Linked DNA regions of Homo sapiens. The protein of the gene in region 1 interacts with the protein of each later gene in a pairwise test. Each region holds a gene or a part of one and is shown in the gene's direction. Other genes may lie near its edges.

Region 1 (7,462 bases):
GTTGAATTCAAGGTTTGGCATCTCTGGAATTTATACCCATTTCTTGAATAAGAAGATCTACAAAAATGAAGCAACTACACCAAGCCTCAGACATTTCACATCATACAATAGTCTCCTGTTTATATGTTTGTCTCTTTCCTTTATAGCTCGACGTCAACGTGGGTCTTCTTCCGCCATTGGTCATTCTTCCAGTGTCTAGCACAGTCAGTGTCTGCTATTTGCCGAATGGGTGGGTAAACAGCTAAACATAGAAATCCCTGTGATATGAGAATCGTTGCCAACATCTAAAATTAAACCAATTTTTAGTTTGAGAGCAAATAATATCAAGGTACAAAAAAGTGAAACACAACTCCTTTTAAGAAAAAGAAATCCTAAACTCCGTGTATTACTCTGAGCAATTGCAGGAAAACTTCTGACTCGCCAGAAGAAATAACCCAAGACAGTCTATGAAACGAAACTGGGGTTGTGGTGACTTTGATCTGCATCATTGTAGTTTAATTTCTCAGTTTTACAAGTAAGCAATGAAAATGAACAGGACTGACTGAATTACATGTTACTTAGGGCTTTCGGGAGGTGGTCACAGCTGAATCAATCCGTTTACCTTCCATGGGAGGTGTTAATATATATCTTATTGCTTATTTTCTTTTAACCCAACACTTTAAGCTCAGCCAGAGATCCAAGGGACAGTGGAGGTTGCTAGGCAGGAGTGTCAGTAAAGAGGCCAGTTGGATGCTGAGGATGGCTTAAGCTGCCCAGTGCTGGCTCTCAGGAATCTGGAAAATTTAAACATTATCACCTGACACCAATCCTTTGTGAGATCCCAACAGAGCCTTCCCTGTCTTCAGTGAGAGCTGTCTACTTGTTCTGGAACACTTCTGAGCACTCCCATTTGAGGCGATGGAGACGATGAGGAGGCGAGCCCCCACCCTCCCCATCTCCCATCTAAGATGTCACCACACTTTCCACATGAAGACATCTGGAATTGCAAAGGAGGCTGTGCAGTTTCTATCCGCTTACCTAATAGCCCCTCCACCGAGCAGCCACCTTCCTTGGGGTTCTCAGGGACGCTCCCTTTCCCACAGACAGGCTCCTTCAGTTTCCAGCCTCCCCCCTCCAGCTATTGTCTCCTTTTTCAAGTCTGTGGGTGAATTGTGGGGTCCACTCACCTCTGTTTTTCTAAATCCCTCAAATCCCTTTCCTACCCTGGTATGTCCAGGATTCATCTCCTCAAAATTTGTTTAAAGGGCGTGGGTTACAAATAAGGTTAGGTAGCACATGCTATTTAGAAAGTTTCAGAAAGAGAAGGAAAGAAGGAAGGAAAGAAGGAAGGAAGGAGTTGTTACATAAATGAGAAATACTAAAAGGCTGTTTAACTGATATTGCAGACACTATAGTTCCATAAAAAAGATAAATTATGAAAAACAAGGTTTGTAAACATTTTTATCTTTCCTTAATTGGCCCTTGAGCAGACCAGATGACTCAGTACTGGTCTCCAGGGATCAGCCTGCACTCCAGGGCGTTGTGACACATTTATATTGCTTATCCTATTTAACATTTTGAGTCATATTATTTTCACAGAACCTTATTTACTATAAACGTCTCTATAAATCTACATAGTATACACATTTCATTTAATATCTAAGTAACATATACTATTGTACACCATCAAATATACCCAGTAACGACACCCTAGCTTGCTTAATCATTCCTCAAGTGTTAAGAGGTTTGAGTTACAATTAACGCAACAATCCTCCCTTTACCTCCATGGATGTAATTTTTTTGTTGTTGTTTCTCTAACCCATTTATTTGTTTTTTTTGTCTGCATATGTGTTTATATTCAAACAGGCAGCTTTGTTTACTTTTCGTCTTTGTATGTTATTGTTCAAAAAAGGATTTCCTGAATCAAAAAACATGATCAGTTTTATGACCATTACTGGCTTTTTCTGTTGGAGACTTTATAGCAGCAGAGAAGTTGAGGTCTGAATTAGCACAATGACCATTTACGTTACAAAATTCTTATAAGAAAAACTTGCATGTTCTATTTCTTAATTTGATAAATTGTCAGTTATGTACCATTGAATTTTTACCCCTGCTGAAGTTACACCAGAACTACATATTTGCAGAAAATTCCAGAGAAGTCAGGATGGGCCCTTAGTACAGTAATCATAGAGTGTAACAATAGAGAACATGGCACTTTTTTAAAAAGTCGAGAGCTGCCTCTGACGTGTCACTCTTAAAATATGTCTCCCAGCAGTCATCTTCCTGCCTTCCAGGGCTAGAGCTTTGTAGGTTACCTTAGGGTGATCATGGGGACCTGGTTTTCATGAGGCCATGTTTAAGCTCAGGGGTGACCTGGCTGGGAAGAGGGTATAAACCCATGAACACGAGTCAGTTGACAGACTAGGATTGCCACTTTGTAAAGAAGAGCCCAAGACCTGATCAGAATGAGACACAAATGAGGTCATTTTTAACAGAACTAGGGGAGGGGAGAAGGACAAATAGACTGGGGCGATTCTCAGGGAGGGAAGGGCTGGATACGAGACTCTTTTGGGAGAGCCTAGAAACGACGCAAGCGTCCCAGACACCCGGGCTAGTGGAGAAGAGAGCAGAATGAGAGCAGTCATGAAAAAGAGTAAGGGAACACAAGAGAAATTCGGTTTGCCTATTTCTGTCTGGGCACAGTTCTGCCCTTAGCAATCTAAGGCAACTTCACAAAGCTCCACTCACTGCACGGGATGTAGAACACAGTGGAGGCTTCCACCCTGGTTTGACTGGCTTTTGGGAATCAAGCTGGAAAGCCAAAAGGACATGTTTCACTGTGGAGGTGCCCTCAGGGCTGGCGAAGGCCTTGGGGGAGGTGTCTTTGCAACTGTGTAGGGGTGGTTTTCTGATTAGCAAATCTGAGGGCAGGGAGATATTGTGATCAGGACTGTTTGATTCTGGGGAAGCCTCTTTTTACCCTGCCCACATAGAAGACTCTGCTTTGGATACAGAGTCAAGGACGGATACTGATACAATGGACCTGTAACTTGTCCATGGCTGCCTTTTGTACAGTTTAGTCCATTTGAGTAATCTCTACAAGCCTGCACCTCGAGGGCAAACTTCCTGCTCTTCTGGGGAATTTAATTGTGAATTGTCTGTTTCGGGGCCCATTTTGACTCCTGTATTCCAGGACTTATCTCTTTGGAGGCCTTGATTTGGAATTTCCCATTGGATGGGGCTACTTGGGTACTGGGTAGCTTCAACCTGGCTTCCGTAAGAACAAAGCCAGATGATCACGGTGGGTGGTCTGCTAGGAGAATGGAAATGCCATTGATTAAAATTGGAAGGTTAAGAGAGAGGCCTGAGAGTTTGGGATAGGAGATGAAGTTTCAAAAAATCAGTTTTTAAAAAAACATTTCCCATCTGAAATGCCAGTGAATTGTTCAGATAGATTACATTGAAAAGGCTGACATTTCTGTAGCAGCAACGAATGAAGTCATCCGAGTGGATGAGGTGCTCTAGGCCATACATGGAGAAGAGAACACAGTTACCCAAGCCTCCCCGACTGTGTGCGGCCACAGACTCTGCTCATTTCCCAGTTAGGAACGATGCAGGGGTCTGCTGGGATCTCCACGTTTCTACCTGTACCTCTGAGGACTGGGTTTCTGCCCACACGAGTTGCAGGATTTGCTCTACTGAGAAAAAGACTTTTGCTCCAGAAAGCAAGTTTCCCGTTTCAGACACGGACAGCGAGTTTTGCTTCTAGAATCATTTTCAGCTGCATACAGAAAAATGAACTTGGCTGAGCTGAAGAGCCACACATATGTTAAACGGAAGCTCGGGTATTAGGAACGTCGAGAAAGGCAGGCCGAAAAGTTAGCCCCCTTCTCCTCACCCCTGTCCTCACAGCGGCCCCTTCAGTGGCCTGACTTTTTCTGCGTGGGACCCAGAATGTCGCTTGAGGATGGGACCCCCGCAGACCTCCACGCGCTGCCACGCAAACGGCCTCGGCCGAGAGCATTCGCTTTCCAGATGAGAATGGCATCTTCAGGGACCCGCTGGTAGTGGGGCCAGGTCTCCACAGGGCCGGTCCAGTCCTTCCTACCCACCCGGGCCCTGCGGCCAGGCGGGGCCGGGAGGGGCGGATGCCGGAGGGCGCTGGGGGAGGCCGACCCGCGCGGGGCTGGTCCGAGGGCGGAGGCAATCCGCCGGCGACGCCGCAGGTCCCGGGTGGCTGACGCCGTCCGGGGGCGTTCCTGGGAGCTGGGGGCCGGCGAGGCTGGACCCGACGCGCCCGGGAGGAGCCGGCCGGCGGCCACGTGACCCACCGCGGCGGGGCCGGCGGCCCAGAAATAGCAGCGGCGGCGGTTCCGCCCGCGGGCGGCGCGAGCGAGGGGCAGAGGCGAGAGACGCCGGCGGGGCGCGGGCGCGGCGGCCCCGGAGGATGCTGCTGAGCCCCGGCACTGCCTGGCTGCGAGCACATGATGGCGATACGGGAGCTCAAAGTGTGCCTTCTCGGGGTGAGTCCTGGCCGCCACCCGCCGGCGGACCCCGGCCCGCGCTCTCGCGCCCCTTCGCTCCCCTATTCCCTGCGCGCTCAGTCCCCGTGATCCCCTCGCTCTCCGCACCCCTCTCGTAGCCCCCGTCCCCCTCGTCCGCGCGCCCCCTGGTTCCCCGGGTCCCCCTGGCTCCCCTAGTCCGTGCGCCCCTCGCTCTCCGCGCCCCTCGCTCTCCGCACCCCGCCTGTTCTCCGCCTCCCCGCCGTCCGTGCGCCCCTCTGGTCCGCCCCCGCTCTCACCCTGCCGGGGTCCGGGTCCGAGCCTGCCCCGGGCTTACTCCGCTCTTTCCTCCCGGCCCGCGAGTCCCCGGATCCGCGGCGACCTCGCGGGGACCCCCAGCGGGGACGGGGCAGTGGCGGCGAGTCTGGGGCCCCGAGGGCTTTCTCCTCCGCTTTTGATAGTTTCCTTCCGGCAGAAAGTTTAAGTTGCTCAGCCAAGTCGCTGAGTGCTCTTTTGCCTCCTGGGGGCAATTGATTTACTCACGTAAAACAGAAAAATAAAACCAAAAGCGAACCCAGCCAAGGGGGTGAAAGCCGAGGGCGCGGCCGGGGTGGAAGGTGAGGCAGTGACCTGTGCGGAGCGCGCCCTGCAAACTTCCCTGCTGCGGGTGAAAGAAGCTGCCTGGGAAAGTCCTCCCCACCATCACTCCCCTAAAGTGGGGTTTTCTCCGCCCGAAGAAGCCTTAAAGCAGCCAGAAACAAAAAAGCAGTCAATCCGTGCGGCCCGGGGACTGCAGACAGGGGACCCGGCGAGGACGCAGGGAGCCGCTGGCGAACCGCCCCTGGGAATTCAGATAAACGTAGGGTCGCTTCCTTTCGGGGGCCCACTCCGCATTCCAGAATTCCTTCTTCTAAAAGAAGAGCCGGTTCTAAGGGCGTTTTCAGCAGCCATTAGCATCTGGTGTACCCGCCCGTGTCATTGGCAAAGCTGGTCTCATGAAAACCATTTCCTAAAAAAGGGCAGCGAAAGGGTCGCATTCTTGTGCGAACTGATCTGTCAAGATGGGGGTACAAGAACTGTAGAAAGAGGAAATGATTTCGGTGAGGACTGAATTGTGCCAGCGTCTCTAGGCTTCCTCTAGGCTCTTGTGGAACCTCCGGCAGGCTCCCATCATCGGCTCCCATCACCGGCCTCTTCCAAAACCATCCCTTACGCTAACTCGATTGTCCGGTTGGCTTAGAATTCCAGAGGATCTGGGAAGGCCCTGCCCTCCCTGCTAGCCCCTGGCACAGATCCGCACAGATCCCCACCTCCCCCGACTTGCTCAGCCACAGCCAGGATCTAGTCTGGTCTTTCTCTGTTGACCTTTTTGTGTGGCAGGAGTGGGTTTTCCTGTTCCCCAGGCCCTCTAATATTTCCAGACATAAATTCCAGGAATCCCATGCTTCCCTCTTGAGGGGCCATTTCAGCCTCAGGAAAGGCCTTCAGAGACTTAGAAGGAATGTCGTGTTCCAAGGAATGAAGAGGCAGCCTTGATGTGCCGTGTTTGTCAGGACTGGCCTTGGGAAAGGTGAAATAGGACATATTTTTGCCTTTTTTTCTGCAACTCTTTTCTCTTGACTTTTACTGAGGTGGTCCAAGCCCTGCCGTGTCACAGGACCCCTTATTTTCAGTTTCGGTGTTTAGGGACAGGTCTCTATGTCCTCCTACCAGGACACTGATCAGGTGGCAAGAACCCTGTGTCAAGAGGCAGGAAACCTAGGCTCTCGTTCTTTCCCACCAAAGAGCTGTGTCGTTTTAGCAAAGCAACTCAGTGGCCTCATCTATGAAATGGGCATAATAACATGTTCCCCCTTTAGGCAGAGGACTACACCAGATGATCTCTTAAGATACATGTTACCATTTCCTGCTAATCTATGAGTTCAGGGTGCCAATTAGCAAACCTGGGAGAGGAGGAAGCTGGAGGAAATCTCTTTACTTCTTTTATCTCCAAGAAAGATACACACTCTTTGAGTGGCTTCCTGCAGACAGTGCCTTACCTTTGCCAGTTCTGTGTGTAGGAATTTGAACTTGGAGTTGGAAGAACCATGCCAAAGCAGAGAAAGAAGAGGTTTCTGGGCAGACGGAGGCTTTGAAACATCAATCGTGGCCGGTCGCGTTGGCTCACACCTGTCATCCCAGCACTTTGGGAGGCTGAGGCGGGGGGATCATTTGAGGTCAGGAGTTCAAGACCAGCCTGGCCAACATGGTCAAACCCCGTCTCTATTAAAAATACAAAAAAAAGTTAGCTGGGCGGTAGCGGCGCATGCTTGTAATCCCAGCTACTCGGGAGGCTGAGGCAGGAGAATCGCTTGAGCCTGGGAGGTGGAGGTTGCAGTGAGCCGAAATCACGCCACTGCACTCCAGTCCGGGCGACAGAGTGAGACTCTATCTCAAAGAAAAGAAAACAAAAGAAAAGAAACATCAGTCATATCACACCACATTTGTGGCTTCCTTTTTTTTTTTTTGAGGGTGGCTGTAAGTTTCAGTTTTATTGAAATCAGAGGACATTTTATTTGAAAGACCAAATGACCTTGTTGTCCACACTGAGTAAGATTTGCCACATCCCCTCGTTTGGCTGGCTCTTTCCTGGGTGAGATGTGTGCAGCAGGCTGTGTTTCTAGCTGCTCATCCAATTAGGCTGATTCTCTGGGTGGGATAACATTGAGGGAGATCAAAACCATTTGACTGTCTTCGGTTTACTCTCTTCTCTCTCTCTCTCTCTCCTCTTTTTTGTTTTGAGACAAGGTCACATTCTGTCATCCAGGCTGGAGTGCAGTGGTGCCATCATAGCTCACTGCACCCTCCAACTCCTGGGCTCAGTGGATCCTTCTGCATCAGCCTAGGTTTATTCTCTTGATTCGAGAGACCCTGTGGATCAGTCAGTGCTAAGTCCAAAAGTCCTTTAAAAAATATATGTATATTTTTGAGATAGGGTCTCA
Region 2 (7,107 bases), on another chromosome or scaffold:
ACATTTTTGTGTGGAAAATAGACAATAAATCAAATAATTATAGCAAAAAATAAATCAAATAATTATAGCCAAAAAGGAAATGACCATGCTGTGGTATTAGAGACAAACTAGAGGAGGAGAGCATTTTAGATAGAGTGTGCAGCAAAGGCCTCTCCGAGGATGTGAAATTTAAGCGTAGGTGGAGGATAAGGAGTCAGTCATCTGAAGGGTAGTGACAGGAAGGTTCCAGCTGTAGAGCCGGGCACGGTGACTCAACGCCTGTAATCCCAGCATTTTGGGAGGCTGAGGCGGGCAGATGACGAAGTCAAGAGATCAAGACCATCCTGGCCAACATGGTGAAACCCTGTCTCTACTAAAAATACAAAAATTAGCTGGGTGTGGTGGCACACGCCTGTAGTCCCAGCTACCTGGGAGGCTGAGGCAGGAGAATCGCTTGAACCCGGGAGGTGGAGGTTACAGTGAGCCAAGATCACGCCACTGCACTCCAGCCTGGAGACAAAGCAAGACTCTCTCAAAAAAGAAAAACAACAACAACAAAAACTTGCTTAGTATATATTTTTAAGTACTTTGTTTTCTGCATTTTAAATGGTCTTTCTTCTAACAATTTGACATATGCCTTTTTAAGGGGATATTTCTGTTAAGTTACTAGAAGGATTTCATTTCCTTTTAAAGAAATCTAGTGTTAACCTTTTCAGTTTCATTAGCTATGAGTAATTTTGGCAAAATTTTAAGATGACAAAAGAAAACCTTTAAAATGATTCAGAGAATACCAAGAATTTATCAGTCATTACTTGCCTAACCACAGCTCATCCCTTGCTCTTACCAAGTATAAAATGAGTTTAAAAACCTGAAGAAACTTTGGTGGAGCTGAATGAAAATGATGCCTCCTAAAGACTTGTTTGTACATATTATATGCAAGATATTCTTACAAAGTCCATATTTTCACCCAAGACATACTGCTTTTTCTTGCTCATGAAATCATCGGACAGCTTTGAATCTGTGTTTGGGAATGATGTAATCTAAATATTCATTATTATTTATTTTTGTCTTGACTTGTTGGCTGAGAGAAAAAGAAAGATAAGATACTTCTGAATTTCCAGTTAAATGTATTTGTAAATGTATTTTGCTCAGAATTTAGTTTTGCTTTAGATGTGCCATCAATGCTTATTTCTCCCTGTGTTTGAGGAGTGACTTTTGATATTATTGAAAATTCAGTTAAAAATAAAAGTCAATTTGTAATTCTAAATTAATTTTTATAACTTGAATTAAAGATTTTCTATGTAGCATGTTTCTATCTTGATATGTTGTATCTTGTTATGGTTTCCTAAAACTCTTATACATCTATTATTCATTCTTATCTCACTCACCCTCTTTTGTTTTTAAAAATGTTGTTCCACATCATAGAGACATTGATTACTGAGAGATTAAATACATATATGTCTCCAAGTTTGTGATTTTCTTCATTTTAATTACTGGTACTATATGGGCATTATTCTTTCTCTGCCTCCTAAAACAAACAAACAAAAATACCAGGAATTACATCAAGATCTGATATACTTACAATTTTGTGCTTTCCAGTATATCTTTGATTTATCTCAAATTCCTTGTAAATAGCATTTCCTGAGAATGGCATCAGCATTTATGATGTGTCAAGAATCAGTTATTTCTCATGCCATTTTGATTTAAAGTGCAAGTAGTCTGTGTGTGTGTGTTTCATACCTATAACTAATATCAAGTTCAAATTTTTCTGTTTCCATTAGTGTTTGTTTTATTGTTTAACATGTTGATATAATAATCCCTTTGGGGGAATGAATGGCATTTCTATGTGAAATTGCTAAATGTAAAGCTTATTCCTTCAGTTCAAGAACTTTCGATTTTACACACACACTCACACACACACACACATATATATTTTCCTGAAGGGCATTACGCATTCCTGCTTATATAAATCAGTTATTGAGAGCCCTTCCAGCCAGCCATGCTCACCCCCATTAAGGTTCTTACATCACTTTGAACAAGTAGCACTTACAAGTTGCGTGTTAATTTTCTGTGTTGCAGTCTGCATTCTGCATCTGACACTGTGCATCTTAAAGGACTGCAAGATGGTTTTCTTATTTGTATCTGTAATAAAATCTGATAGTAAGATGGCATTCAGCATGGATTTTTATATGTAGAAAGGGTGGGCATTAACAGTTTAAGCTTGTCTGTACTCAGGATCAGGTTATTCATATTAATAATTTGTGTGTAGAGTTAAAACTATGATGCTCTTGGAGAAAATTTCTGCAAGGTTTTTCCTTCCTTCCATAAATAGTGTCATATGGTTTGTTCTTTAATACTGGTAATTTTTTTAACCCCTGCTATTGGTGTCCATTTATATCTAGCTCATTTTGTCAAAGCTTAATGTATACAACAGCTTAATGTTAGCTAAAACATATCTTACTAGATAGTTTATGTGAACTTTGTGATAGTGATTTGCCACTCATAGTCCTTTCCTTTTTTTTTTTTAACCCCTTTTCCTTTCCTTGCTGTTGTTTCATCGTGTTGCATTCTGTTCCATTCTGAAATCATGGTAGTTAACATGAGTTTACTGTGGCTGACATGGTTAGAATTACTGCTAATGGAAAAAAGAGAAGTTAACTCTCTTTAATATATGTACCGGCATACATATTTCTTCTTCTGTTATTTGATTAAGTGGGAGAAACTTTGATGTAATCTAGTCTGTCTCTTTTTGTAAACCATCAAGTAAGGTAAGGCTTTATATTTTTTCAAATCTTAAACTGCAGTGCTCAATATTTTACATTAAAAGTTGCAGAACGTAAATTTGATACTTGAAGTTTTCATTAGAAGTAGTAGAACCAAAATAATGTTAGTGAAAAAGCATATATATCATTTTATATACTGCTATTTTCACTATGCAAAAAGCACATGCGTTTGTACAAGAAATAGAAGGGACTGAGCCAAAGCTAAAATTCTTTAAGGCAGTGAGTTTATGGATTTTATTTTTGCTTTATAATCTTATCTAATATCTTCATATGGTTTTTTAAATTAAGACAAATTAGAACTTTGTGTATCTTTGGATATTAAGAATGATATCTAGAAAAAGTTGCCTCTTATAAGCTGTAATTTTACACCCTTATTCCATATTTACTTTTATGCAGTAGATATCTTTTGTTTCTGACTGGCAGAATCCTATAATTCTTTCAAGGTTCACCTCTAATGGTACCCGCCACCCTACATGGAAGGAATTTCTTCCTTAGGTTTCTAATACTACACTTTGTACACACATATATTTTAATACTTATTAGCTAGTTGTGTATGCATTAGACTTTGTGACAGCCTGGCTCATTGAGAAAACACTGACTATGGAGCTAGAACAACCTGGCTTCAAGTCCTGATTCTGTCCTTTACTAGTTTTATGATCATAAGCATATTATTTAATCTTTTTGAGCCTCAATCCTCATCTTGTTATTGTGGCCAATACTACCTGTCTTATAAGATTGCAATGAAGTTTAAAGCATCATGTGTAAAGAGGCCAGCCCTCTCTGGTAGTGTCTAATAACTACTTCTTTAATTAAAAAGACTTGGATTCTGCCACTCCTTTGACATTGTACCTTCTTTTCCTGGAATGTTAGCTGGCTGAATCAGGAAGACTTGATCAAGCTGATTACTAAAAATGTCATTAATTTTTTTATTTGTTATGTAACTAGGGTTTTAATCAGCTTGCAGTACTGACTTAGATTTTTTTTGCAGTCTCTAAGATATTGCTTTTTTAAATGTTATTTTCCACACACTTAGAACCTTGAGAGATTTGTGTTTTCAGAGACACATGAAATATCTTTTTGATTGTATTTTTTATTTTTATGTTTTTAACAGTAGGTTAATATTTTTCAACCTTTTCTTCATTATCCTCCCCCCAAGCTGCCTGTTTAGACATTTCTTCCTAATTACCTCTACCCATGAAATTTTAATTCCACAAATACAGTATATCTGTTTATGTGTAGTACTGTATGTGTATCTATACTTTATACTTAATAGAGTAAAATTTTGTTACCCTTCTCCACAAAGAACCAATTTTCACCCCCTTGGAATGATATCACCCTTGTCAAGAATGCATGCATCAGACCTTTTAGACATGATTTGATGGAACAGATTAATGGTTCAGTGCTTGGGTTCTAGATGGATAACTCTGAGAATGAATTCTGCTTGCTCTGTTGATTAGCTGTGTGACCTTTTGTCATTCTCCTTAGCTTTCTAAAGCTTCTCTTCTTCATCTGTAAAATGGGAATACTACTATTATCATCCTCATAAGGTTGTGCAGTACATTTAGCATATATTAATTGCTCAACATATATTAGCTATTACTTTATCATCTTAATAATCACAACTTTAATTTTGTTCATTGGAACTTAAGACCTGAGTGTTAAGGGGTATCTACCTGTTCTCTTTATCCATTTTTTAAATACTGACTGCTGAAAATGTAAGCAATGTTGGTAACATAAGATACCTACAGAACTCCTTAATAAAGAAAAGCTAATCAGAAAGAAAATTCCTTAGTGTACAAATAATTACATGTAGAGTATTAAAATGAATTTACACAATAGCTTGAACCATAGGTTATTATTTTATTAAGTAATTCTGGGTTCTGTTTTTAGATATTTGATTTAATGGATGCCAAAGCACGTGCTGATTGCATCAAAGAAATAGATCTTCTTAAGGTAATTAATGAACTGTTGACTCTTTTGAACATAACATGGTGATAAAAGTGATTTACTAAAATATCACACTTAAACACAAAAAGGTTTTTAAGACTTATGCTACACTGATTTCAAGTAATATTATATAAGGTTAAATTTCAGTATACTGAAGAATGTAGTTATTTTTTGGATTTATTGTTAAATAACATAATCAGAACATTTGTAGGACCAGCTTTTTTTTCTCATTTCAAAGTAGGAAATAGATAAAATGGGCATAAAACATTGAAGAATTTTTTTTTCTTGACCACCCCAACAAGACATATTCTAAAGGTTAAGTAATATAAATGCAAATTAGCATTATCTCAACATGTATTATATTGAGAATGTGGACTAATCAAAATGGTTCACATGCATTTTCTAATGTTTCAATACTTTTTCCAGACTTAGACAGAGTGCATGTAAAGAGTATGCCAGGAATTAGCTTTTTAGTTTCTCATCTACTAAGAATATGACTGAGATTTCAGTTATTTCTGCACTGCTTCTTTTATAGTGAAGTTTCTTTTGAGAAATACTGCGGCCTATGTTGTATTTTTAACTTTTAGTTAAGACTTCGCTCTTTTTTTATGCCATCCGTTTGTGTTAGTGCCTAAAATGAACCAGATTTATGCAAAAAGGAAGAAAGTAAGGTCAAAACAATGTTTTCTGACTATTCTGTTAGTTGTAGTTATTTCTTGGCACATGAAGTAGCTGGCTTAAATATATGTAAACTTTTACTGTGGAAATAGCATGTCATCATAGAAAATTTGCAGCGAAAACTTTAAGTAGAAAGAAGAAAGTCACCCATACTTTCTGCATAATTTCTCAGAGAAACAATTCATCTTGTATTAATATGTTTAAAGATTGAACAAAAGGATTGCAAATGAGTAGGGACTGATACGTATATTTCTACAAGGTAAAATTTTTCTTAGGGATGATTTTATGAATTGGCTCACATGAATAAGTCCTGTATGTTATTTGATATAAAAGCAATAGTTAGATATAGTATAGTAGGTACCAGCTGTGTTTTGTCTACTAGCTGGAGTTATTCTAGGACCAACCATAACTTCCAAGTAGGAGTAAAAAGGGATACTTTATTTATCATTGAGTGTTCCTAAATGAAAGTTCTCATTTTGAGGATGTAATTTTTAGCAGTTGGCGACCTAATTCTATCATTTACTTCTTGCATCTGTTGATATGCTTATTGGGCATAGCAGTACTTTTAAATTAAGATTTAAACGTAAAATATATTCTTTCTAATAAAGAATATTAAGATAAATTAATTTATACCTAGTTTTACTTTTAATAATTGTAATATTTGTTTCACAATTCACTAAAGAAAAGTATACTGTCATGTTAAGATTTCTGTAATTTAAAAAATACGGTGAAGTTTGTTCTTAAGTACAAAACTATAAGTGACTCTTGGATATTTACAGTAAGAAAACTTTCTGATGCCTGTTTTATTTTCTCAGCAACTCAACCATCCAAATGTAATAAAATATTATGCATCATTCATTGAAGATAATGAACTAAACATAGTTTTGGAACTAGCAGATGCTGGCGACCTATCCAGAATGATCAAGGTAAGTTTTGAAAAAATTGTCTTAATGTTTTGTTTTGTTTTTTTTTCTAATAGAATTGTCTGTTAAACACATAGGGATATTAGATATTTTAAACTAAAGACCTCAATGCAAAGCTTATCTGATAGATATGTAACAAATAGTAGATGGTTAGTGATCATAATTCTGAAACTGGTTTACTTGGTGATGTTTACACTGATCAGCTTAAATATCTAAACACCCCAAAACCAACTTGGAAAGAGGCCAAGATACTTGTCTTCTGTAAGTTGAGTTAAAGTTTTGCTGTTTGATTCTCTGAGCAGACCATGCTTGATCCTGTGTCTCTGGACATGAGTAAAAGGAGGTAGAAAGAGACTCTAGAGCAGCTTGACCTGTTTCTTGGGGGGGAATCCATCAAAGAAAGTGGGATTTGCAGTCAGACCTTGGATATCAACCCCACATAAAAGTTGTTTAACCTTCTTTTCTAAGGGCATATTAATTCATAATTAATATAATTAAGTTGTTTAACCTTCTTTTCTAAGGGCATATTAATTGGGTTTAAGTTCAGCTGCAATTAATAGAAACCCTTAAATAATAGTAGCTTAAAAACTGTTTGTCCTTGGGCCAGTTACTTCTCTGTGTCACATTTTCTAAAAAACACAGTAATAATAGAACCTACTTTATAGGATTGTTGTAATGATTGAATTAATTAGTATTTATTAAGAGCTTAGAAGAATGCCTCACACATTGTAAGGCTATGTAAATGTATCTGCTGCTGCTATTATTATTGTTATTGTTATTATTTCTCTGTCACATAA
Region 3 (7,107 bases), on another chromosome or scaffold:
CGGGGTCAGAGGACAGGGTAGGAAGAGGGCAGAAGTATGCAACCCTGCAGGGCCCCACAGGAGTGCCGGCGAGTGTCTGGCAGGCTTCTGGGGACCTGGTCAGAGTAAATCGGGGTCAAGAATTAGAATGTCAAAAAGAACAGGGTATTTTTCTTTCTAAAGACAGAATTGGGTCCTGTGTTGATCCCTGCCCTGAGGTCTTGTTTGGCCCCTCTGGGCAGGCCCTGAAACTGCAGAGGAGGATCTCAGGTTGGGTGGAGGGCCCAGAGAGTAGCAAGAAGCAGTTGAAGGGTCCCCAAGGTGACAAAATGGAGTAGGAGGTGGAGGGTGGAGGGGGTGGTACCTGGAGCTACCCCAGAAGGCTTCCTGGAGGGAAAGCCTCCAGCAGCAGTGATCCCCTTCCCCATGTTCCCCCTCCCACCAGGCAGTCTGGCAGTGGAAGGTGACCTGGGCTGTTCACCAGGCCCTGCATGGGAAGAAGGACTTCCCCGTGCTGGGGGCTGGCCTGGAGCCCTCCCAGCCTCCCGACTGCCGCTGCGCAGAATATACCTTCCAGGCAGAGGGCCGGCTCTGCCAGGCCACCTACGAGGGCGAGTGGTGCAGGGGCCGGCCCCACGGCAAGTGAGTGGCTGGAGCTCTGGGTGGCAAGGTGGGACTCCCTGGGGGTCTGCGGGGCAGAGAGCAGCACACAAGCCTAATTGTCTCAGGACATGTTCCAGGAGCGGTTACTCTCTGTGGACAGTCAATTCTCAGAGTCCCTCTTAAGTCCTCTTGGACTGGGCCTGGCCCAGAGACAGTCTGTGCCAAATAAAGTCTTGATGGTGACGCTAGAGGACAAGGGGCAGCAACCACGCGCTGGCCTTACAGCCTGCAGGTGCCATTCCATTCTTAGGAGGGTGGGAGAATAATTCTCACATCTGTACCTCATTGTCTGGCAGTGTTGAAATGGCTTGCACACATTCTATCTCCATCGGTCCTCATGAAGACGCTCTGTATGGAGTGCTTTTACCCATTTCATAGGTACAAACACTGAGGCCTAGTGATGGGCATAACCTGCCCAAGGTCTCAGGGCAAGTGATAGGGTGAGCCGGCCTCAATCACAGGTCTGTGTGACCCCACAGACAGGCAAGCCTTTATAGACCATGTGGCCCCACCCCATGCCACAGCTGGGAAAACAGACCCAGAGAGCAGAAGGGACTCACAAGGCTACACTCTCAAGCACCTCCGCTAGTTTCTGATACCCTGCCTCCTTTCAGAAAGGGCTCGAGAAGACTTATGAACAAAAGGACAGAAAAAACACAGAAGTGGGGAGGAGGGTGGTAGAAACCCCACAGACCAGCATTAAACTTGAGCTTGATTCTTAGCTCTGAGCTTCCTGTTGGTCAAGGGAAAAAAGGGAACCTAGATGTCTCCAGGGCTTTCCTTATGGGATGTGGTGAGTGTGCCCCATGAGGCTGCTGGTACAGTTGGGCCAGGAGTAGAAAAGGGCTAAAGGGGCTTTCTGCAAGGAATGTTCGGAGCTCAGACAAGAGGGCTGGGTGGGTGCAGGGAGCCCAGTCCAAGGGAAGAGGAAGGGAGGGCGTCTGAGAAAGTAGGTGGCTGAGGTTGCTGAGGGGTGGGTAGGCCTGAGGCTCGTGAACCTCCACTGTGTTCCAGGGGAACCCTGAAATGGCCGGATGGGCGGAATCACGTGGGGAATTTCTGCCAGGGCCTGGAGCATGGGTAAGGCTGGCTGGGGCTACTGCTGGGAGGCGTGCAGTGGGCTGAAGGGTGCTTTCCTCCCCTGCTGTGGTCACCAGCCCGGCCCCATCCTGAATTCCCAAACCTCAAGCAGGAACTTAGAGACAATCCGGTCCAGCCCCCGCCCACTGTACCAAAGGGGAACCGGGGGCCTGAATAGGGGGCCCGTCTCAGCTCGAGGTCACAGAGGGAGTGGTACAGGCCAAAAGGTGCTCCAAGGTGCTCGGGACCAGGCTGGAGGGAGGGGTCCTGAGAGGGGCCCTTTGAAGGATAGGAAGGCTGAGGGCCTCTGAGAGTCTCCCTGTTGTCTGGAAGGCTCCTTGGGGGCAGGGATACTCCTGGGTGGCATGGAGTAGGTGTAATGGGCGTCTCAGGTCAGGGCTGATCCCCACCCCCACAACCATGCTGTCAGCTTCGGCATCCGCCTGCTGCCCCAGGCCTCTGAGGACAAGTTCGACTGTTACAAGTGTCACTGGCGAGAAGGCAGCATGTGTGGCTACGGCATCTGTGAGTAAGTGACCCTGGCTGGGGGGTTCATGGGCTGGGCCCATCCTCTGGGCTGAGCTCCATGAGGCAGAGCTCGTTGTTGATGGCCCTCCCCAGGTACAGCACCGACGAGGTGTACAAGGGCTACTTCCAGGAGGGCCTGCGGCACGGATTTGGGGTCCTTGAGAGTGGTCCGCAGGCCCCCCAGCCCTTCAGGTACACGGGCCACTGGGAGAGGGGCCAGAGGAGCGGCTATGGCATTGAGGAGGATGGTGACAGGTGAGCGCCCTGCAGCCACCACTCCCAGGACGGAGGGGTGGACCGGGCCCTCACAGACCAGATTGTTGCAGGACACAGGCTCCTGTTTGTCCCCCACTGTGTCTCTCTTAAGCCCCTCACTTCCCCTCCAGTCCCTCGGTTGCTGCGGAGGCTCAGGCTGAGCGAATCTTGGTCACGCTGACTGCAGGGTCGCCCCCGCCCCTCACCCCTCCTCATGGTGTTGGAGAGGCATTTCTGACCCCCTGCTCTGTCACGTCTAAAAACTGCAGCCCTTGCTGGCTCTCTGGGCTGTGTGATAAAGCCCTGGATCCTTGGCCTGGCAATCACAGCCTCGCCTGCTTCTCTGACCTCACCCCAGCTGCGTCTCCTGGGCACCCCTCCAGCCTTTCTGGACCACTGAAGTCCCCACGTATCCATCACATGCTCCTACCTCCATGGCTTTGCACACACTCCTATTCCCCCTGTCCTTCCTGCCACCTCCACGGAGAAGCCTCCCAGATGCCCTTCCCAGGCTGCCTCCCTCCCTCCTCCATTCTCTATTCCTCTTGGGGGTCCTGACCTCTCTGGCACTGTGTCTGTTGAGTGGATTCAGGTGATGTCACTGCCCCTTATCTGCACTCCCTGCCGCCCCGTGCCAGCAGAGTGCCCAGGAGGTACATGGGAATGAGTCTGATCCAACTCTGGCCACATTCCTCTCCTTCCAGAGGTGAGCGCTACATTGGCATGTGGCAGGCTGGTCAGCGCCACGGCCCAGGGGTCATGGTCACCCAGGCAGGTGTCTGCTACCAGGGCACCTTCCAGGCGGACAAGACGGTGGTGAGTGGAGTGTATCCTGGGCTATCCCTCTCTTTGCACCCCACTCCCGCTGGGGGCACTGAGGCTGAGCTGAGGCCTTTCAGGGAGGGATGGGAAAGGGGGCTGTGTTCCTGGGTGCTGGAGGGAGCCAGAACCTGGGCAGGAAGCCAGCTCTACCACCCACCTCCCCTGGCCCTGGCCAATCCCTGCTCTGCCTGACCTTGGTTTCCCCATCAGCAACTCAGGTTAAGAATACTTACCATAGACTCAATGAACTAACAAGAATGGAGCACTTGCTCATGATGATGCATTAGCTGACATTCACAGAGTCCTAACTTGACACCTGGCTCTGGGCTAAGCTCCCACCCTGATCTTGTGGGATCTTCCCAAGAGCCCTGCAGGTTGATGTCATTATTATCCCTAGTGTGTCCCTAGTGAATGACAAATGAGAGGTTCAGAGGGATCAGAGGACCTGCTCCATGTCACCTTCACTGAGTGGCAGAGCTGACACTCACACCCTGGTCTGCTGAGCCTGGCCGCCGAGCCTGGGACTCCCATGTTTGCCTCACCCATACCCTTCCAGGTGCCTGGGGAATGTGGGGCTCTGGCCTGATGGCTGTTCCTGTTATTATGGTCTGTTGGTTTGTTTATGCTCTACTTCATTCTCGAAAGGATTGAAGGAGGCCTTCAAGGAAAGAGGAAGACAAGGGGAAGAATAAGTACACAAAATAGATTTGGAAATAAGCCGAACACTAATTGTAACCCTTTCGGCTCTGAGCTTCCCGGCAGCCCATGGGGCAAGGGAGCCTGGTCAGCTCTGCCGTTCCCAGGGCCAGTGACAAGCAGGGAAGCAGGGATGTTTCAGAGAAAGCCCCACATTTCTTGAGCTCCCAAGGGCTTCCTGAAGAAGCCGCTGGGGTGAGGAGCCAGGGCGGAGGGTGTCATTTGGGGAAATCCAGGGATGGGGTCCTCGGGGCTGGTGCTTAGCAGGCCAAAGGCTAGAGTCCCAATTAGGTACAGTCCTGTGGGGCGTGATGAGGCTCAGGGCCCCTCTCGCCATGTGTCAGGGCACATCTCCCTTCTTTGGCCATCTCTCTCCACCCTGAGTTTCCTGGCCCTTCCTCACCCACCCTTTCTACCCTCCCTGGCTTCCTCTCCCCAAGGGCCCGGGCATCCTCCTCTCTGAAGACGACTCCCTGTATGAGGGCACCTTCACCAGGGACCTGACCCTCATGGGGAAGGTGAGGACCACTGAGGCCCCCCTCCACACCCTGCCAAGGCCTTGGTTGGTGTCTGTAATCTCCCCACTTAGACTCAGGGCTGGGGGCAGGTAGGGGAGGGCCTGTCCCACCTCCCTTGGAGCCAAGGAGTGGGCACAGCAACTCCACCCTGCCACAGAGTTGCGATTGATTCTGGAGTGAGGTGAGAGGGGACCAGTGGCCTTGCCTGCTATCCAGAGGGTACCGGTGGTCTCCTGGCTGTGTCCCTCCATACCCTCCTAGTTCAGAATACACGCCCTCCACCAGTACCAGTGCCTCGAGCAGCTGTCCCTGGAGGCACTGGCCTTCAGTGTGTGCCTCCCTGAGCTAACCCAGGAAAAGGCAATGTGTCCCCGCTGGAGCCTTTGGAAATGTAGGGGCTGTTTTGGTTTCATAATGACTGGAGCAAAGGGGTGGAGATCAGGTTGCTATGAATGGGACAGCCTCATGTGGCAAGACACCGCCCTCCTCAGGCGTTGCCTGTCCCTGGGCTTACCCCCACCCCAGCCCCTCAGTGGTGGTCTCCCCACTCTTGCCTGTGAGTCCCTTCTGCATCTCTCTCCTCTTCCTACCTCAGAGGTGAGCGAGCCCCTGAGACGTGGGCACAGCTGTTGGTGGGGGGCTCTGGCAGGCATAGAGGATTATGAACCCCTCAGCATGGAGCAGCTTGAATGGATGGCGGGAAGCCCATTCATTAGTCCTTAGCCTCTCTGACACTGATGGACAGGCTTGTGGCCTGTCATGATTGGCTGGAAGGGTAACTGGGCAGACAGACATCCCTGCTCCTTCTCCTGGCTCCCAGGGCAAGGTCACCTTCCCCAATGGCTTCACCCTGGAGGGCTCGTTCGGCAGTGGGGCAGGGAGAGGACTGCACACACAGGGTGTGCTGGACACGGCTGCCCTCCCACCAGACCCGAGCAGTACCTGCAAGAGGTGAGTGCCTGGCCCCTCTGGCTCTGGGCCTATCTGGGGATGTGTCTGTGTTTCCATCCCAAAGACTCAGGTCTCCTCAGAGGGGCCTTTTTGCACCCACCTCTTAGCCCTCTAGAGAGTTCCGAGAGCCCAGGGTGTACAACTCCAGTCAGAGACTCTTGGGATCAGGGGCTGTGTGGATATAATGCGGTACACCACAAAACTGGAGAGAAATATTATTTGTAGGCTTTGCTTAGGTCCTGCTTTTTTTTTTTTTTTGTCTCGAAAGGATACAATACGGTTTACAAACCAAACATACAGGAAAAAAAAAATAGAAAATAAGAGCATATGTTAACCTTAAAAGAAAGGGATATGTAGACATGTCCTACGGCATTTACAACTGATCATTGAGCCTGGCTCTGAGTTTCCTGGCAGCCAAGGTAAAGAAGGAAACTTGCTAAGTGGAATCACAGTCATTATCAAGGAGTATTCCAGAGAAGGATAGACTTCTTTTCCTGTAGGAACAGAGTTCCTCCTTGGAAAACAGTTGCTCTTGTTGCGTCTGTTGAGGAAGACTCAGTATTGCACAGAGGAAGGAATCTGTGTGGGTGGCAGTTCTAATGGGAAGTGGTCCCAGGCAGCATTTCAGATGTAGGGAGGGAGTACAGTTGACTACTTGGCCCGCTGTCCCTGCATGCTGCTTCTCCCTGACAGCAGGAGCTGGGAGTGGACAGCAATCCCTAGGGGCAGGCCCCAGCCTGGGTGTGAGTGTGGGCTGCGTGTAGCCTACGAGCATGACACTGGAGTGCAGGGCTCCATTAGACATGCGCAGCCAGGCCCCAGCCTGTTGGCCAGGGCGGGATCAACCACAGGAAGGAACCAGCTGTAAGGGAGGGCAGAGGGGGATGTCTTGGAGGGGAATCCCAGACTTTGGACACTGGTCTCTCTTGGACCAAGACCCCCTCTCTGGCTTGGCCTCCAGATCTGCCCACCTTTCTGTCTCCGTCTTTCCAGGATTCCATATGCTTCTGTCTGTCTTCTCGTCGCAGGGTAGATTCTCTGTCCCTTTCTCTGCTGCTCTTCCTCCTGGAGCCGTGGAGGTCAGCCCCCTCTGCATGGTTCAATCCATCCACCCTTCTTGGGGCTTGATCCTGGGCCAGGCTCATACCCCCACCCCTCCAAGGGCCTGGGCAGAGTCCTGCCTACCTCAGCTCCATCTCTCTCTGCCCCATCACCCACCCTCCATCCCCATCGCAGGCAGCTGGGCGTGGGTGCCTTCCCCGTGGAAAGCCGCTGGCAGGGAGTCTACAGCCCCTTCCGGGACTTTGTGTGTGCTGGCTGCCCCAGGGACCTGCAGGAGGCCCTGCTGGGCTTCGACGTGCAGAGCTCCAGGGAGCTGCGTAGGTCTCAGGATTACCTGTCCTGCGAGAGGTGAGGCCGGCTGTGTGAGCATGCACAGGTTAGGGTGGGCTGGGGAGGGCTTCCTGGGGGGAGGGGGCTGGGCCGAGGTGTGGGTGAGGGATGCTGTGTGTGGTGCCCAGGACCCACCCTGAGGACAGTGTGGGCAGTATGGAAGACATCCTGGAGGAGCTGCTGCAGCACCGGGAGCCCAAGGCCCTGCAGCTGTACCTCAGGA

What was found.
Region 2: the proteins of RAB31 (region 1) and NEK7 interact in binary tests that used the Homo sapiens proteins (3 or more experiments, as listed by UniProt).
Region 3: the proteins of RAB31 (region 1) and ALS2CL interact in binary tests that used the Homo sapiens proteins (3 or more experiments, as listed by UniProt).

What each region holds. Positions count from the first base shown.
Region 1 is NC_000018.10:9,703,943-9,711,404, forward strand, and holds the start of RAB31 (ras-related protein Rab-31), read left to right. Parts: upstream 1-4,358; 5' UTR 4,359-4,463; coding exon 4,464-4,502; intron 4,503-4,729; exon of another isoform or gene 4,730-6,051; intron 6,052-7,462. UniProt on the Homo sapiens protein: The small GTPases Rab are key regulators of intracellular membrane trafficking, from the formation of transport vesicles to their fusion with membranes.
Region 2 is NC_000001.11:198,257,923-198,265,029, forward strand, and holds part of NEK7 (serine/threonine-protein kinase Nek7), read left to right. Parts: intron 1-4,652; coding exon 4,653-4,715; intron 4,716-6,202; coding exon 6,203-6,313; intron 6,314-7,107. UniProt on the Homo sapiens protein: Protein kinase which plays an important role in mitotic cell cycle progression. Required for microtubule nucleation activity of the centrosome, robust mitotic spindle formation and cytokinesis.
Region 3 is NC_000003.12:46,676,644-46,683,750, reverse strand, and holds part of ALS2CL (ALS2 C-terminal-like protein), read left to right. Parts: intron 1-424; coding exon 425-621; intron 622-1,656; coding exon 1,657-1,722; intron 1,723-2,152; coding exon 2,153-2,251; intron 2,252-2,343; coding exon 2,344-2,505; intron 2,506-3,209; coding exon 3,210-3,321; intron 3,322-4,463; coding exon 4,464-4,541; intron 4,542-5,361; coding exon 5,362-5,492; intron 5,493-6,728; coding exon 6,729-6,902; intron 6,903-7,012; coding exon 7,013-7,107. UniProt on the Homo sapiens protein: Acts as a guanine nucleotide exchange factor (GEF) for Rab5 GTPase. Regulates the ALS2-mediated endosome dynamics.